Regions from separate parts of the Homo sapiens genome. Here region 2 is linked to region 1. Evidence: fine-mapped expression QTL. A gene starts in region 1. The other region holds a variant in brackets. All regions are shown on one strand. Distances are from middle to middle.

Evidence for each region.
Region 2: its variant is fine-mapped to the expression of DLX5 in left ventricle (GTEx, PIP above 0.99).

The regions. Positions count from the first base shown.
Region 1 is chr7:97,022,601-97,027,976 of GRCh38, reverse strand. DLX5 (distal-less homeobox 5) reads left to right here and starts at 3,146. Exons shown (of 3, transcript NM_005221.6): 1 at 3,146-3,708. The coding sequence starts at 3,354. RefSeq lists enhancers at 204-403, 1,482-1,997, 2,924-3,640.
Region 2 is chr7:96,458,986-96,464,361 of GRCh38, reverse strand. All of the region lies in intron 1 of LOC105375411 (a long non-coding RNA gene), which reads right to left. Among named protein-coding and RNA genes, the nearest start is that of SLC25A13, 140 kb to the right of the region's middle. The variant GA/A (reference allele first, on the strand shown) is at 2,377.

The DNA of each region.
Region 1 (5,376 bases):
AGAAAGATGTATTGGAAGTACAGAGAAAGAAAGCCACCTGGAAGTGAACTCTAACACTAAGGACCAGTTGGTGTCTGGCCAGTGACTGAGCTTGGGGTTTGCCATTTGCGCAATGTTGCTCGAGGACACTGGGTGGCGCTCGTGGTAAAGACTTGCACTTATCTTAGGGCTTCCCTCCCGCTACTTCCCCTTCCCTCCCTTTGCAGATTTCAGCTACTAAAAGATGAAATTACTTACATTCTTCCTACGTGTCTCAGCGGGAAGCGCACTGCTGGAAGAGTTTGATGCCGTGGGGCTGTTTCTCCACGGCTGGATTTGTCGGTGGATTTTGAGAGGCAATAGCGTCCAGCCCGCTGGCCTTAGGACAAAGCTGGAGGCCCTAGTGTGAGAACTCCCTCACAACACCAGCAAAAGTTTGCTGCTCCGAGAGCCGGGATACTGGCCGGTGTATGTCCTGAGCGTGGGTCCGAAGCCGCAGACAGGCCCGCAGAGCAGCCGGCAGTGCACAGAGCTACAATGCCTATATTGTGAAATTAAATAAAACTGTACTGTGAACAGACTCTCCGCTGCTTTTAACTTAGTGCTTCCTCTCCCTCCCGGCTGCCTTTAAGGAAGGGGTGGAGTGGGGAGTGGGGTCAACCTTGAAAAGAGGAACAAAATCAAGAAAGTTGAGGCTCTGGACCTGTAGAGACACATCCAGATTTGGTCTCACCCAGCAGCAGAATGGCTCAAGTCTGCGTGAGGGCCAACGTTCTAACGCTTTAGGAACCGAAACAAAGAAGTTAAATTCTTCCCTCCCGGCCCACTCCTTTTTGTCTTTTATGAAATGTGGGAAAGAATGTCCATTTTGACTGCGGGGTTTTGGGGGGGTGAAATTTAGCAAGGTCTAGAACTAATTTGACATTGTAACATTATTTTCAATCGGATCCCGAACTTCTAAATTTTGCCCCAATTCTGCAGCTTCCAATCCCATCCTGGTTAGAATCTGCCATCTCAGCAAGGTGTAAGGGCATTGCTAGGAACACCCTGTTCAGTATAACCATGTGGTAACTCAAATCTCTATTTAACCAAAAGTGTCGAAGATAGGGGACCAGAGGAAGGGAGGCCTGGCTCCCTGCCCACTTGTCTTTGCCGGGAGGTGCTTTGAACTGTCCTTGGCATTGATCTGAGGAAGCGATTTCTGTAATTAAATGGCAGTGTGTATCAGGTGACTCGATGGGCGCCGATAACTTCTCCAGAGCAGAGCCCAGGACCGCAGACCCATGTTTCCCTCCTGTTCTTTAGCTCCTCACAGCCTACATCTAGACGGTTAACAGCCTGTCGGTAATCGACAGCGTCAAGTCAGGGCTGGCTGGCAGCTGCAGCTCTGTTTACCCCGAAGTCTATCTCAGAGAAGCCCGCGGCAGCCCAGGCCCAAAGCTCGTGACTCGGGCCAGTGGGAGAAGGAGAATGCTGCTGGGCGCCAGTCTCCCGGTGCTGAAGTTTCCCCCGAAAGGAAGTGCGACAATAGCTGTGTTTTTCTGGTGCAGTCCAGACCGCAAAGGCAGGGAGTTGGTGCACGCACGGCAGCTCTGCTTTGGAGTTCCTGAGCGGGGCTGTATCTTGCTCTGAGTTCCAGACACCCTACCTCTACCCGTCGGCCTGTTTTAGGCCGAGTGGCTCCACACTCCAAGTAAGGCTAAACTAATACTAGACACAACTAACACAGACGCTTTCTTCTTCGGTAGGAGGGAAAACGGAGGGGAGGCCAGATAACCCTAGATAGCCTGTGGAACTCCCAGATTGCCGGTCTTGGACCCCGTAAAGGAAGATGTAGGAAGGCCCCAAATCAGGATCTAGTCCGCGGAGTTGCCTATTTGAGGGGAGTAACAATGGGGATTGGGAGAGACTTTTATGCTGAATTTCTAAACTCCCAGCTGAATCACGACTAGAACAAGGATAGCACCTCCTGAAGAGCAAAGTTTAGATCTCGTGTATCAACTGAATGATTCTTGAATCCTTTCTTCCCTTGCATACGAGCTAAGTAGGATGTCTTTGCAGCAGGAAATAAAGGGGAGAGGGTACAGAAACCCGGGTCTGGGAAATGGAGAGACTGGGCCACATTCATGGAGCCAGGAGGGGGAAATCAATGAGCATCATCTGACTTTGCAAAGGCTTTGATCCTTGTCTCCTTCCCCACTTCCGAGACTTTCCCATTCTTTCCTGGAGGTATGGCAGGTTATACATGGATCCATTCACCTTTGCGGGAGTCTTTGGCCACTGAACATAGTTAAAGAGCCTTTATTCCAATGTCTTGAAAATAGATGAAAATATTAAACAGAAGTGGAGCTGTTTGGCTCTTTTTGCAAGCCAGCAACGAGGATTTGGGCTTCCTTAAGTTATATGTGTTTAAGACAGTAATTTTTAAAAGTCATTATAAGGACTTTGGGCTGCAGGAACTCTCCCTGCCATTCACCGGCTTAATGGACATTGTGCCTTCTTGGGCATTCCTGTCCAGCCCGCGTCCGGGAGATACTCATCTCCTGCAAAGGAAGTTGCCTCTTTCCCCAAAGAGCAAATTTTCAAAACATGTAAGTTACAACTTGCTTCCCAACACTCCACTAAAAAAAAAAAAAATGCTGTTTCCCTTCCTTCTTGCCTCCATCCTACATCCCCCCGCTCCCCACTCCCTGCACCTTGACTCCCTATTTCAGTATCAGTGTTTAATTCTACACTCGCCTTTGGTGCAGCCCACGGGGGCGGGGTAGTGGGAAGCAAGGAAAGATGGTCGCCCACCTCATTCCCAAAACATGTGCACTTTTGAGGCTTCTGATTGGAACACATTGTCCCCAGACATCACAGAGCCTTGTGCTGTGGCTTCTGCGATGTCTTTGGAATTTACTAAAAACAGATAGACTAAGACCCCTCCCCACTCCACAACAAGCAAAAACACACACAAGCGCGCGGGCGCGCACACACACAAACACACACACCCCCTCAGTACCCCCCACCCCCTTTTTAAGCAATGCTTTGTTGTGCTAAAACTAGTTGGACGAGTTAGGGTGTTACTGTTGCTCCCGAGGCCCTGGCCAATAGAACCAGATCCACCCCGCTGTGCGTAAGCGCGCAATTAAGGATTTAACCAAGGCTGTGCTGCGCCTCAGCCAGCAGTCAGCCGGCCGGAGACAGAGACTTCACGACTCCCAGTCTCCTCCTCGCCGCGGCCGCCGCCTCCTCCTTCTCTCCTCCTCCTCTTCCTCCTCCTCCCTCGCTCCCACAGCCATGTCTGCTTAGACCAGAGCAGCCCCACAGCCAACTAGGGCAGCTGCCGCCGCCACAACAGCAAGGACAGCCGCTGCCGCCGCCCGTGAGCGATGACAGGAGTGTTTGACAGAAGGGTCCCCAGCATCCGATCCGGCGACTTCCAAGCTCCGTTCCAGACGTCCGCAGCTATGCACCATCCGTCTCAGGAATCGCCAACTTTGCCCGAGTCTTCAGCTACCGATTCTGACTACTACAGCCCTACGGGGGGAGCCCCGCACGGCTACTGCTCTCCTACCTCGGCTTCCTATGGCAAAGCTCTCAACCCCTACCAGTATCAGTATCACGGCGTGAACGGCTCCGCCGGGAGCTACCCAGCCAAAGCTTATGCCGACTATAGCTACGCTAGCTCCTACCACCAGTACGGCGGCGCCTACAACCGCGTCCCAAGCGCCACCAACCAGCCAGGTACATGGACAGGGGGAAGGCTGGGCAGATACAGGGCGACTAGGACGCTGGGGGCGCGAGATGGGGTGGTAGATTGGGGGTCACAGCGGTTCACGGCAGTGGGGGCGCACGCGGCAGAAGGGAGTAGGACTCAGACCCTCCAACAAAGAGAGTTTCTCGGGCCAGCATTTTAGGGATTTTTAGTAGGAGAGCCCTGTGGAGGTTCGAACTAGCGTCTCTCCCCTCCGGCACCTTCCAAGGCCCTTCAGTCGCTGAATTCCCAGCTTGCCCGGCCAGGAAGCCGGCTAGGCTGGAAAGGGGATAGGGGTGGAGAGAAGAAAGAATCAAGCAGCTCCTGGCGTTTGCGTAACAAAGAGAAGGTTACTTGGGAATTTTGGTAAGCGTGCTGGGTTGGTGCGAGTGGGAATAGAAGGCTGCCTCAAAAACTCAGTCAGGATTAGTTTGAGAGCCGCCACAAGCTAGCACGGTGCGGGTGCCCTGAGCACGCTGGGTGGGGGTGGGGGGGTTAAGGAGTTGTAGCCAGCCAGAGAAGAGCGCGCCGAGAGTTTTGCGGTTTATCCAGGCATTTCCAAAAACAAAAAGCCATTTAAAGGTGGAGGAGGGTTGCTGAGGGGTCACGTTGTAGGATAGATTTTTTTTTCTGTCTCCATAGGCGCCCACAATTTGTCTTTCCGTCCTCCTTTTTCGTCCGCTTTGAAACTTACTTAGAGAGTTTAAGAGGGTTAGTGAGCTTGGGCGGTAAGAGAAAGGCATGAGGCTCGGCGGAGAGGTTTTATTGGTAAGGTTTGATCTCTTCCCACCAGCACATTAATAATCCTGCTAATATTAGCATCCCCTACTCTGGCAGAATTGAGACCACAGCCCTCATCCTCCACACTTCTCCCTGGAACTTGACACACACACACACACACACACACACACACACACACACCCTGGAGAGGTTCTCCGTCAGTTCCAGAGGGGTGGTAGTTTTGAGGAAGGGGAGTTGTAGCCCCAGGGCAGGTTTGTACAACACGCGTTTGGCAATCCCTCCCCCTCCCGCCCAAACCCATACTCATGACAGTGAGAATCTCATCCTGACCTGCCGCCCCTTTCCTACGAAAACACCCCACCACCGGTTCCTTCTCAGTGTGTGACTCTTGCTGAACTTTAAAAGAGAGCCCCGGGTTGAGGTGTCTACGTTTCTTTCACTCTCTCTGTATTCCGTGCATAAGTGGAAGATTTCTTTTTTTTTTTTTTTTTTTTGCCAAGAACATATTAAGTCTATTTGTAAAAGAAACCAGACACATCTGTGCCCTCGCAGATCTGCAGCGAGATTATGGGGGTTGCATAATCGACCCTCTGTCTGCGGCGGCCCCGACCGCTTGCTGCTGAAGTGAAGGAGCAGTTTGCTTGTGGGTCTTTGAACTTTGGAGACCTCGGTTAGCGTCTTCCCTGCCCAAGAGTCTGGCTTCTGCGGGCGCCCGAACAGACGCCGACAGAAGTAGGGTCACGGCCCAGGGCCACCTCCTTGAAGCCTGGGGAGGGGCTGGTGTTCTTGAAGCCTGGGGAGGGGCGGAAACGCGGAGGAGCACAGGGTGGGCGTAAAAACAAGTCCGGGAGAAGAAGCAACGACCGCAAGAGCTGAATCCCAGATGCCAAGGAGAAAGCAGTGTTGTAGGAAGCGCT
Region 2 (5,376 bases), 560 kb after region 1:
CTCAGGGGATTAGAAACTCAGCCTAAAATCTCATTTAATTACAGAGCATTGACTACCATGGACCTCTTGCATCTGGACCCAGGAATAATAGAGAACATTTTCTCTGAATGGTTTGTAGTGTTCAGGATAGAAACACAGGTAGTTCAATTTTTAACATTTGGTTAAAACGCAAAAAGCAAAAGTTCACAGATGGTTAGCTCAGCCTATTAAATAATTTTACCAAAGTTCCTTGATTCTCTTTTTCTTTGGAGGCTTAAAAAGTGCAATTTCTTTCCCTTTTGGATGCGGAGGTGAAAGGGCACAAAATGACTTAGTTCATCTGTAAATGACCGTAACAATAGTCCCTACCTCAGAAGTTACCATGGAGAGGAAGCCAGATAACATGAGTGAAAGGACATCCCAAAATATCAAATGCTATTCAATGTTAGTTAAATAGTATTATTATCATTACTCATTTACTCCTTTATTTATTTTTAAAAATAACCTTTTGAGCACCTACTAAGAACGAAGCACAGTTCTATATGAAGAAAATGTAGTGGTGAATATGGCAGACATGACTTCTGCTCTAATGCAATTTCCATTCTACTGAGGCAGACAGATGAACAAATTAGATATTCCACAGAGAAAAGTACTGTGAAAAATATGAAACAGGATAATATGATAGACAGCGGCTGTGGCATTTCTTTGGAACAATCCCTCTGAAAAAGTAACATTTGAGCTGGAGACTAAATGAATTAAATGATAAAAGCAAGCCAGCCATTGGAAGAACATTCCAGAGAGAAAGTAAAGCAAATGCAGCGGCCCTAAGCTGGGCTGGATTGAGGACAAGAGAGGACCTCAGTGGCTCAGGGGCAGTGAGTGGGGAGAGACAAACAAGCTGAGGCTTGAGGGAAGGCCTGTGGCCCAATAGGCAGGGCCAGCCTTGCAGGCCACAGCAGAAGCTGGACTAAATCCCAAGAGCTGTAAGAAGCCACTGGAGGATTTTAAGCAAGGAAGAGATAGATTCTGAGTTGTGTTTAAAATGAAAGTTACTCTGGCTCCTGTATGGAAAATGGATGAGTTGGGTGGTGGAGAGAAGAGTACCCAGAGTTGTAATAAAGACATGAATTAAGAGGCTATTACAATAGCTGAGGAGAGAGGAATGATGGCGGCAGTAGGGCGGTTGCAAGAAGACAGAAAAACAGGCAATCAAAGTAGAGGGGTCAGGCTGGAAGCTTCATAGATGACCTAGAGTTCCAGGCAGAAGTTCAGGGTAGACTTGTAAAAGTCATCAGCAAAGTATTGTAGTGACTGAATTGTCCAACCCATGGCTCACAGGTTGCATGCAGCCCAGGATGGCTTTGAATGCGCCCAACACAAATTCATAGACTTTCTTAAAACATTATGAGTTTTTTTTTGTTTGTTTTTTGTTTTTGAGCTAGAGACTCACTCTGTCACGTAGGCTGGAGTGCAGTGGCGCAATTTCGGCTCACTGCAAACTTTGCCTCCCAGGTTCAAGCAATTCTCCTGCCTCAGCCTCCCAAGTAGCTGGGATTACAGGCATCCACCACCATGCCTGGCTAATTTTTGTATTTGTAGTAGATACAAGGTTTCACCATGTTGGCCAGGCTGGTCTTGAACTCCTGACCTCAGGTGATCCACTCGCCTTGGCCTCCCAAAGTGCTAGGATTATAGGTGTGAGCCACTGCACCTGGCCAAAACATTATGAGATCTTTTTGCAATTTTCTTTTAGCTCATCAGCTATGGTTAGTGTTAGTATATATTACATGTGGCCGAAGACAATTCTCCTTCTTCTTCTTCTTCCGGTGTGGCCCAGGGAAGCCAAAAGATTGGACACCCCTGATTTAGAGGAAAACAGAGGAGGAAAATCCAGCAAAGGAGCAACCAACAAGAGGCAGGGAGAAATCTAGGAAAGTATGCTCTAAGAGCCAAGAGAAGAAAGTGCTAAGGAGGGGCAGTTAAGAAGGAAGGAAGTGGTCAATGAGACAAGCGTAGTTGGAATAAGGAGGAAGATGAGTACCCAGAAGAGGTCATTGGATTTGGTAATGTGGAAATCATGGATGACCTTTAAAAGGAAACTAAACTCTAATTAAGGTGGGCTGGGAAAACACCTGAGGAATGTAGAAAACAATTTTAGACAACTCTTCTGCAAAGTTTTACTATGAAGGATCAAAGAAATGAAACATAGGTCAAAAATATTCTTGTTAGAGGCATATGAAAAAATGCTCAACATCACTAATCATCTAAGAAATGCAAATTAAAACTACAATGAGCTATCATCTCATCACATTTAAAATGGCTTTCATCCAAAAGACAGGCAATAATGAATTCTGGCAAGGATGTGGAGAAAAGAAAACCCCTGTGCACTATTGGTGG[GA/A]CTTTTCCCACTTACTCATCAAAGATTGATGAGTACATCAACTTTGGAGAAAAGTATGAAGGTTCCTCAAAAAACTAAACATAGAACTACCATATGGCCAGAAATCCCACTGCAGGGTATATACCCGAAAGAAAGAAAATCAGTATATCGAAGAGATATCTGCACCCTCATGTTTATTGCAGCGCTATTCACAATAGCCAAGATATGGAATCAACCCATGCCATCAACAAACAAGCAGATAAAGAAAATGTGGTACAAACATATACACAATGGAATATTATTTAGCCAGAAAAGGAATAAAATCTTGTCATTCGCAACAACATGGATGGAACTGGAGGTCATTATGTTAAGTGAAATAAGCTAGACACAGAAAGATAAATATCACATGTTCTCACTAATATGTGGGAGCTAAAAAAAAATGAACTCATGCAGATAGAGAATAGAATGATGATTAGCAGAGGCTAGAAAGGGGAGCGGGGAAGGAGGGAATAAAGATGAGGTGGTTAATGGGTACAGAAATACATTTAGAGGAATAAGATCTAGTGTTCAGCAGCACAACAGAATGACTATAGTTAATAATTAATCATATATTTCAAAATAACTAAAAGAGTGGAATTAGAATGTTCCTAACACAAAGAAATGATAAATGCTTGAGGTGATAGATATCCCAATTACTCTAGTTTTGGGCTCAAGGAGTTCAAGGCTGCTGTGAACTCTTATTGTGCCACTGCACTCCAGCGAGAGTGACAGAGCAGAAGACCCTGTCACAAACAACAACAACAACAAAACTAGTCAATAACTTTGTTTTTTATTGCTTTGGTGTTTTCTACCTATACTATGCACAAAATAAAAATGGTTGGCTGACTTTCCCTTGAGAAACATTTCAACCGGAAGCATTAGGTAAAGTCACTAAATACTGGGTCATCTTGAAATTTACACATGTCACTAAAATAATACTGTGTGGATAAAGACAAATCAACAGTTTAAGTGAAAAGCAGAAACAACCCCCATGACAATCCTAAACAGAGATTTTTTTTAAGCATTCAATTTTATAAAAGAAAAACAGAGTAGCAGGTTTTTTTAGCTGCCAAGTCAGTTTCATCAGATACTCCTTCACCATACATTTAATTTCATCTAAAAAATTTTGTCACCTAAGTGAGTAAGATAATTTTCTTAATCAAAATATAAAAATGCCAAAGAGGTAGCTTGAATAATGATAGAATACAGTCCTTCATTTATAGTTTTAGTCATATTTTATAAAGTGCCTATAGGAAGTACTCTAGGGAAAGGAAACTAACCTTTTGCTTACTTACCATGTGCTAACCACTATACTTGATGCTATATTTACATTAACTTGCTTAGTACTCACTACTACCCTACAAGATATAACCTGTCTACAATTTAGAAATGAAAAGACTGGCTCAAAGTTTAATAAAACCAATTCAGGTTTACATAGTGATATTGGTGGAGTAGCAGATTTGACCTCAGGTCAGTCTGTCTAAAGGTGCTTCTCACTTCTTTACATTACTTATTTTACATACACGAGAGCAAGATAAGCAGACCATTTCCACCCCACACAAGGCTGAGTATCATAAGATACACTCCTGTACATGTCGAATCCTTTTGTAGAATTTTACACATTTGTTTAACGATAAATTCCTCCTTAGAATCTACAGTCTGTAGGCTCCATGAGGTCAGATCCTCTCACTTACTACTTTATAAAACCTCTGTACTTTGCACATAGTACTTGCTCAAATATCTATTAACTGATACCCTTTAAGGAGATTCATAACTTAAAGAAAATACCAGATGAATATACAGTGATTCAACATCCACAAAGCAAGCTACTATCTGTCAGGAGACTCATGTCTTGAAAGGTAGCCTGTCTCTGATACAACTCTAAGGCAGATTTTGCCAGGTACATGAAGGTCAGCAAATTCTGTGCCTTTCATTCCTGCCAAACCTGGTCACGACCTCAAAATGTAAGCTTCTCCTGACAGCTGTCCTCTTCAGTCAGTTTAGCTCCTCTGCGCTTCCCCTCTTCTGACCCAGCCCCAATTCCTCCTCTCCTTCAAAAGCATCTGACCCAGCCCCAATTCCCCCTCTCCTTCAAAAGCATCATGTCCCATAACCGTTTGAAACTTGTTTCAGAGTAAACAGACTTCCCTCTACTCTTAGCTGCTACATAGAACACATGCTACACTCCTCACCTTACTGAAATTTGATGCATCTCCCAAGGCTACTGCTGTGGTGGCCCTCTCAAGGGCCATATTCCCATGTTCCATATTTGGTAGTTCTAAGAGGTGGCTCCTGTGTTCTTTTCACTCCCCAGTGCAGCTTTCAAACCAATATTTCCAAGTCCTGGAGTCTAAAAAAAGTTTGTTGTTTGAGAATAATGGCAACTCCTCCCCTTCAACCGTCAACCACCAACCACCTAGTCATGGTTTTAGTCAAAAATTTTGGCCCCTGAATCATAATACTTATCTCTACCTAAGTCCTGTCCAGGTAACTATCCCAATCAATATCCATATGTGACATGTGCTTACCTTATAAACCCCACTCCACTTCCTCACCTACTCTCATACCTCAGACATTGGCATCATTCTCTAAAGTAATGAATTTCAGTGTGTCACTGTCTAATAACAGGATCTTTCCAGCTTTAACTCCCTCATTCCCACTATGCCTATCCTGGAACTTCAATTCTCTCCTTTCTCTCCATCCTTTTGTGTTCAGCCTAGACCTCATGATCCATCGTGTCATCCCTCTTTAACACTCTTCCCCACAACCTTGTCCCACATCCTTCTGTCACTCTATCCTTGTAAAATCCTATCTTTAACTTCCATGGTCTACTGGCTCATAATAGAGAATACACATTCACAGTGCATGTTGGTGTCCCTTCACATTCTAGATGTTTAATTTTTGCTTGGTTTTCAGCATAACCTATAAATCCTTTATATATTCCTAGCCAGTTTTCTCTCCTTAAATAATAATTTCAAAAC